2 linked regions of the Homo sapiens genome follow. The protein of the gene in region 2 purifies or fractionates together with the protein of the main gene of each other region. This does not show direct contact. Each region holds a gene or a part of one and is shown on either strand. Other genes may lie near its edges.

Region 1 (3,827 bases), on a different chromosome or scaffold from region 2:
CTGTTTCTTCCTTCTTAGCACTTATCAAAGGTGTGTTCTAAACATGTATTCTTGTGACTATTTGTTCAATGTATTTTACCTCACTTAACTTAGTGTTCTGCTTGGCTCAATACTTTAGCCCTAATACTTAGTACACATCTAACACATAGTTGACACTGAATACTTGATTAAGAAATAAATGAATCATCAATGAATAGAAATGCTTCAAGAGAAGTTAGTTTAAACATAGGTTAGTGAGGGACTACCAAGTGAAAGGATACATATTGATCAGAATGATAAGGCTGTTGATGCAGATTTGATTGCTAATAAGATAGCAATCAAATCTGCGTCAACAGCTTTATCTATGCATTGGTAGCCATGTAAGTAAATAAAATAATTGAAGGCATATGTGTAAAGAGAGAAGATCTAAGCTTGTGGGGCAAACACCCAGAGAGGACCCAGAGGAAGGTCCACCAAAGAATGGAGTCAGTGCGAGATTCTGAAAGAAAAAAGTACAAATACTGAAAAAAAATACCTAAAATACATCATTTAAAGCCTAAAGGCAAATTGAGCAGTACGTTCACAGGCAATCATGCATAAACATCTTTCTGTAAATGTGTAGAGATGAACGTTAGATTTCAGCAAGCTAGGAAGAAACTGATGGGGAAGAGGAAGGGAAACTGATACGGAAGAGGAAGCAGCGCTTGCACATACGAACTCTAGACAGTATGAGAGCAAATTCTGGGAGTGATAAAAAATGCAGCATTTTTTTCAGAGGAATAGAAAACATATTTGTCCTTGAAAATGACTATAGGAGCCAAGCTGGCACATGTAAATACATGAACTGGTCCTGCTATAGAATAATAGAGCATGGTGAAGGCTGAACCAAATTAGAGCATGCAGGGCTTATATAAAGACAGCAGCTGACTCAAGTCTGTAAGATTACTGCCTCAAAGGAATGAGAACCAAGTACTGTCAAAATTTCCAGGTTTTTTTTTTTTTCAAGAAAAAGCAAAAATCTGGATATGTATATGAAATTTGCTGCATTGGGGTAAAAACATCCCATACTCAACTTGTAGAGCACCACTTCACTCTCTCTGGTCTAAAAGGAATCTGAGTTATCAAACAATAAATTGGACTGCAGAACAGAACTAAGAATGTGGCTAACTTCAAAGTTCTAAGTATGCAAACAGGAGCAATATGTTATGTCATTAGAGCAGAAGTGATTAGAGGTTGAGGACTGGTTCAGCAAATGATAAAGAGTACCAGGAACCAAAGGAAGCAGCACTTAGATTGAAATATAAAAGGAACAGACAAGCTAGGGTAAAAAGAAAAGATTTTCAGAAGGGAAAGTGGGAAGATTTGAATAAACAGAAGTTTGTATCTTAAAGTAGAAAGGACATAGTTAAAAGTTGGAAACAATAGACCATTCAGTGAAAGGTGATGATCTTTAGACTAAAAGACAAACATGTAAAGTTTTGATTATGAAATTATATTGATTCACTTATTTTATTTAAAACTTGAATAGTAATGGGACTTTAGAATAATCTTTTAATTTGACAATACTTAAGAATAGATAATGACAGTTATTTTAAATAGCACTAGTTATACAAGATTGATTACGAATGTAATATATTTTGCCTTGAAAACATACAAGTGAGGGTAAGAAGGAGGCACACATTCCAACCCCCTTCTGTTCTTCGCCTCTTTGTTGAGTGCCAAAAATCCTTGGAGCCAGTTGAGACAGGAGATAGATATCTGGCCACTTAAAACTATCTGGACTAATGCCATATTAATACATGGTAAAGAACAGACAGCAGGTTAACAAATTAATAATCACTATACCAGTCTGGTCTGCATTTAAAACTGACCTAAATCACATAACATTTCAATTTCCTTTCTTATTCAAGAGCTTCAGCCTTCTTTCAATTAGGTTCACACATATTCTAGATAGGCAAGTAGCATTATGCACTCATTCAAAAGACAGTCATTTAACAATTATTATATGCAAAGTGCTATATACAAAGCACCATGGTAAATATAAAAAATTCATCAGTCATGAATAACGTTATGAAGAAGCATATGCCTAATAGGGAAGATAACAAAAGATATATACATAAATAACTACAACACGGCTGGGCGCAGTGGCTCACGCCTGTAATCCCAGCACTCTGGGAGGCCGAGGTGGGTGGATCACGAGGTCAGGAAATCAAGACCATCTTGGCTAACATGGTGAAACCCTGCCTCTACTAAAAATACAAAACATTGGCTGGGTGTGGTGGTGGGTGCCTATAGTTCCAGCTACTTGGGAGGCTGAGGCAGGAGAATGGCGTGAACCCGAGAGGCGGAGCTTGTAGTGAGCCAAGATCACGCCACTGCACTCCAGCCTGGGTAACAGAGCAAGACTCCATCTCAAAAAAACAAACAAACAAACAAACAAAAAAACTGCAACGCAAGCTACAAACCTAAACAGATATAAGTGAAGATCCATAAATGCTCCTGGAGGAGATAAGATTAGAAGGATTATTCAAACATTCAATGATTCCCATTTGACACACAAAACAAATGTCAGTATTTGGTCTCCCAGTTTGCACTCTTTTTCAAACAAGGCATACTGCCTTTCACCATTAGCACAAATTTTCTATTAAACTCTCAAAACTTAGAGTTATTCATCTTTAATTCTTTATTGCAATTTTACTCCATTTACACTTAACCCGTGTTACCCCTGAAGATATTTAATTTTTCCTATTAACATTACACAGAACAAAATATTTCTACCCAACATAGGAAAACTGACATCACATATCTGGTCCTGCAGACTGTTAACAAGAAATAAAAGTGAGGTAATGACATACACTAAGAACAAAAATTTGTATTTCCCAACACCATATCCTTTTAAATCTCCAAAACGATTTCTGTTCAAAGTCCAGAAAGGTGTTTCTGGTTGATTGAAACAGCTATCTTCTAAACCAGCCACAAAACCTAATGCTACCACCCTCCACCCCTCACTAACTTAGTTGCTTGAGTTTTTTGTCAAAAATAATTGGAATTTGTTTTATAATTATAGGACTACTAGGAGTCCACCTCTAACACTAACTCTAGAAAAGACACAGTCAATGTAAAATATACAAAGTTTTGCACTAAAGGCCTAAAGTGGGAGGCAGAATTAAAGAAATCAGCCTTTGGCTCTCAAAGTAAGTAAAAATATAAACATCAACTTAGTTTCAGAAATGAGGAAATAAAATATTGTAAAGAAATTAACAATAGCATTGTACTTTAACCAGATACGAAAAATAAAAATGAAAAAAAGATAGCAATGTGTCTTCATATCATTCCCTTTAGCAGATCACAAAATTCTATTAATGTTTAAATGTTCATGTGTTTCATGAACACTGTAACAAGTATTTACTCTGATGGTTATTTCTCTCTATATGAATAAGATAAATATTAATGTTAGAATTTGAGTTCCATGAAGGCAGAATTCTGTCTGTTCTATTCCCTGATTTATCTCCAGCTGAACTCTACCTAACACACAGAAGGTTCTTAATAAATAACGCAAATGAACTATGCTTCAAACGGAGAACACTCTCATTATTTGTCATACAAATAAATGAATGTCAGAAGAAATTTCGTGACAACTATATCTAAAAAACTATAGAATATACTATACCATGTCAGAAGGGAAGAAAGTGGCAATGTTTCACTAGATTAAGATGAAGTTCCTTTCACTCTTCCTTAATTATTATGAACTAGTAATTAACAAATTACGATTTAGCCATATAATTTCATGTATCACGTATTCTATCTACTATCATTAGGCACAAAAAAAATTAAAGAAAGCTAAGAAG
Region 2 (3,827 bases):
CCTTCTAAGAATGGGTATAAATCCTTTTTAAATGTGCTGAATCATGGTTAGTTCCTCTATTTGAGAGCTTACCTCTGATCAGCTTGGAGGAGGGCTTCCCTGGGATAAGAATCTGTTTAAATACAAAAACAATGCTCAGTGCTTGCTTTAGCATATAATTTGTTGCCTCTCTGTGTCTTCAGAGAGTAACTACTTTATATGTTGGATTTCAAATTGATATTTTACTTGACTATGAATACTGGCTAAATACTGGCTATCAAATGTAGTATATCAAACGTAGTATATCAAACGTAGCAAACTAAAAGATAGCAGCTCTGCTGTCTTTGCCTCACTCCTATTTACGAAGGTGAGTTAGACAAGGAAAATGAAGAGGGTACAATGTCTTGCATCATGAAGCAGCTTTCTGTAACTTTTTCACAAACCAATCCTTCACTTTCTGCTTCCCATCTTATATCAAAAATGAACTATTCTAGGGAATGATTTTTTTTTTTTTTTAAGACAGTATCTTTTTCTGTCACCCAGGCTGGAGTGCAGTGGCGAGATCTCGGCTCACTGCAACCTCTCCGTCTCCTGGGTTCAATCAATTCTCCTGTGTCAGCCTCCAGAGTAGCTGGGATTACAGGTCTCCGCCACCACACCTGGCTAATATTTTTTTTTTGTATTTTTAGTGGAGCTGGGGTTTCACCATGTTGGCCAGGCTAGTCTCAAACTCCTGACATCAAGTGATCTGCCTGCCTTGGCCACCCAAAGTGCTGGGATTACAGGCTCACGCCACTGCGTCCGGCCAGGAATGACTATTGTTTAACTTAGCACAACGTCGTTACAGTTTTAATTTTTCTACTTCGATCTTTATTCTATTTTTCTTCCTCTTCTGTTCAGAATTTTAGTCATTTTGCCATCTTTGGTGCTTCCAGTAGTGGGAAGAAAAGTAGACAATATTTTAATTAGACAATTTTGTTTTTCACTAGTTTTCATAAATATATGAGTAAAAGGAGTAGAAATCACCGCAGAAACTCCCTAAGATAGGAATAGACAATTTACCAAGGCCCCATTCACGTAAACAGCTGTTACACATTAACCATCCTGTCCCCCCCTCCCTAGGCCACAGCATAACCCAGCCATGTGCCCAGCAGCTGGGCTGCTCCAGCCGCAGGGTGTCACCTGGGGGGCAGATATAGGGCATAGCTGGCATCTTCTCTTGTGTTCCCCGCAAGGAACCAGTGCATTATGTTGTTCTTATTTCCCTGTTTTCATCACGACAGCGGAGTTAACTTTATTCAAATACACTTTCTTTTCTGATCATACCCTTACCTTCTCTTCAACACCCTCACTCCCATCTCTGATCCAGCTTTTACCCACTGGAAACGTGTGAGTCGGAAAACGGCACTAGTCTCTCCTGGAATATATGAAAGTGGTGATAGTTGTATGAAGGGGAAGGAAAGCCATCACCACTTCGGTGAAAATTAGAGTTAACTCTAATTTTTCAGTGCCATTAACCTCTGAAGTTTCGAGAGTACCAGAAATTCTCAGAACCTGCATTCCCCCTGTTCACCTTTTACTACAAGCATTAGAAATCAGTAACACATTGTGGGTCACTGAAATTTATCAGATTTTGTGTTCAGTCACTAGTGTTTTGAAGATTTTGTTGTCTATACTTTTTTTCCAATGTGAATATGTAGTATTTCAGCACCCTATGCATAAAGTTAAGGGTCTGAAGCCAGGCTGGGAACACAGCTACCATCCCTAACATGGTTTTTCTGGGGACACGTATGCCCCAGCAACAGAAAACCCATTTGGGGTTTATTGGTTAAATGAGTTTGGGATAACTGGTGAATGTATGTTCGCCATAGATCATAGAATTTAGAGCTTGAAAAGTTCTCGCATATCATCTAATCTGTTTGTTCGCAGTTAAATTTGTTAGATGTTTTCACCACCATTTTCTCTTTACTGCTGTTACCTCTTAAGATTGAGGGACAATCCATGAAAACACACAGAGATCCTAGTGCATCAGAGCAATAGGGCTGTTGGCCAGGCTGGAGTGGATAATGAAGGAGAAATTACAAAAGCAGGCAAGAGCACAACCCTGGAAGAGCCGAGGAAACCCAAATCTGGAATTGTTGGGGTTTTCTCTTAGTGGATAGCATCTTCTCCAAGAACTCTACTTTTAGAAAAGAAAATGCTATGTATATCTATAAATGTCCAAAGGACTGTTGACTCCAAAGAATTGTTTTCTGCTCCGAAATTGAGTTGAAAACCACGTTGCTCTGAGTGGCATTGTTCCACTGATATCCACTGATTCTCTTCCTGCCCTTCCCATCTCCATTATTAAGGAGATTGGGACCATAATAGAGATGATATCTAAATTACATCAGTTAATTCCTTGATGGGTCCCCACGGTCTCGTTATCTCAAGCACAGTCCCAGATGACTGGGTCGAAGAATCTCCTTCAAACATTTTTGCAGGATGAGGTTCTGGTTCCAAGTGGGAGAGCCTTCCTGACTTTCAGATTTATAGGCATACGCCCTTGATGACTGATCCTCCTGCTGGCCAGGTCAGGATTGTCCTAGGCCTAAAATGTCCTTGCCACACAGTGCCGATTATATGTTCAGATTGTTTTCATATCACCAAAGAGCTCAGCTGGCCACGGGGGGAAGTGGAGTGGAGTGGATTCACAGGGCGCAGAAAACAGTGCCCCTCGGAGGCAGAGCCCCGGAGCCCGCTCCACCCTGACCTCCGATATCCGCCACGGGCCTTATTATCACTCTCCTGCCGCTTGCCCTTTCACCGTCCAGAACGTCTGCGTTTGTTGATTGTTGTTGCTGTGTTTACAGTCCTGTTGGTTTCCTGTACGTGAACATGGGCTGGAAAAAAAATTCTGATTTGTGTCTCAGCAGAGCATGAGTGAACCATATCATTGGTAAGAGCTGATTAGGCCAGGAGATTTCTTATAATATTAGCCTTGCTTATTCTCTGAGACCAGTTATTTTCCCTCCCTCCTTTTGAATCTATGAATTACATTTAAATAGTCCAAAGACTGAGTTTTGTAAACTACAAAATTAAGGACTAAAAGTTTTTACTTAATTTTGATTTTTATTCAGATTTTATTTGTAGACTCCCATATCGGAATAAGTTAACAACGGAGAAGCTGTACATTTTTTAGAAAGAGAGGGTTTTTTTTTAAGATCAGTTTGAGGTTCACAGCAAAACTGAGCAAAATTTTGCAGAGATTTCCCAGGTACCCCCTGCCCCACAGGTGCACAGACTCCTCCATTATCACCCAGCAGAATTTGGTATCTTTGTTGCAATTGATGAACTTATATGGACACATCATTGTCACCTAAAGTCTGTAGTTACATCCCGGTTCACTCGTAGTGTTGCAGATTCTGTGGATTTGGACAAATGTGTAATGATGTTATCCACCGCTATAGTATCATGCCGAGGAGTTGTGAAACTACTCTGCCCTACAAATCCTCTGTGGAGAAGCTGTACATTAAACAAGGAAAAACAAGTCAATGAAAGTATAAAAATTCAAAATACGCAGAGTTCGGGGAAAGAATTATAAAATACCTCAGTTGAAGAATATTTTGTTTCTGGGGTTTTACTAAAGTGGTCCCTAAGGAAGTAATTTTGATAGTCTATGACAATGTGGGATTTATTTTATAGTGCTTCTATGTGTTGACAACAAATCCATCAGAAATCTTTCTTTTTTCTTTCTTTGTTTTTAAGTCTAGGAGTTTAAAAATCTTTTTTCCTCCGCATAGTTTGACTGAGGTGTCTGTCACCATAGTACCTAGACAATCCCTCAGGCAGAGATATGAGTGATTAAA

Evidence for each region.
Region 1: the proteins of BMP6 (region 2) and ANKRD50 purify together in Homo sapiens (affinity purification with mass spectrometry; one large-scale study listed by BioGRID and IntAct). This does not show direct contact.

Annotation. Positions count from the first base shown.
Region 1 is NC_000004.12:124,702,701-124,706,527, forward strand, and holds part of ANKRD50 (ankyrin repeat domain-containing protein 50), read right to left. Parts: intron 1-3,827.
Region 2 is NC_000006.12:7,732,420-7,736,246, forward strand, and holds part of BMP6 (bone morphogenetic protein 6 preproprotein), read left to right. Parts: intron 1-3,827. UniProt on the Homo sapiens protein: Growth factor of the TGF-beta superfamily that plays essential roles in many developmental processes including cartilage and bone formation.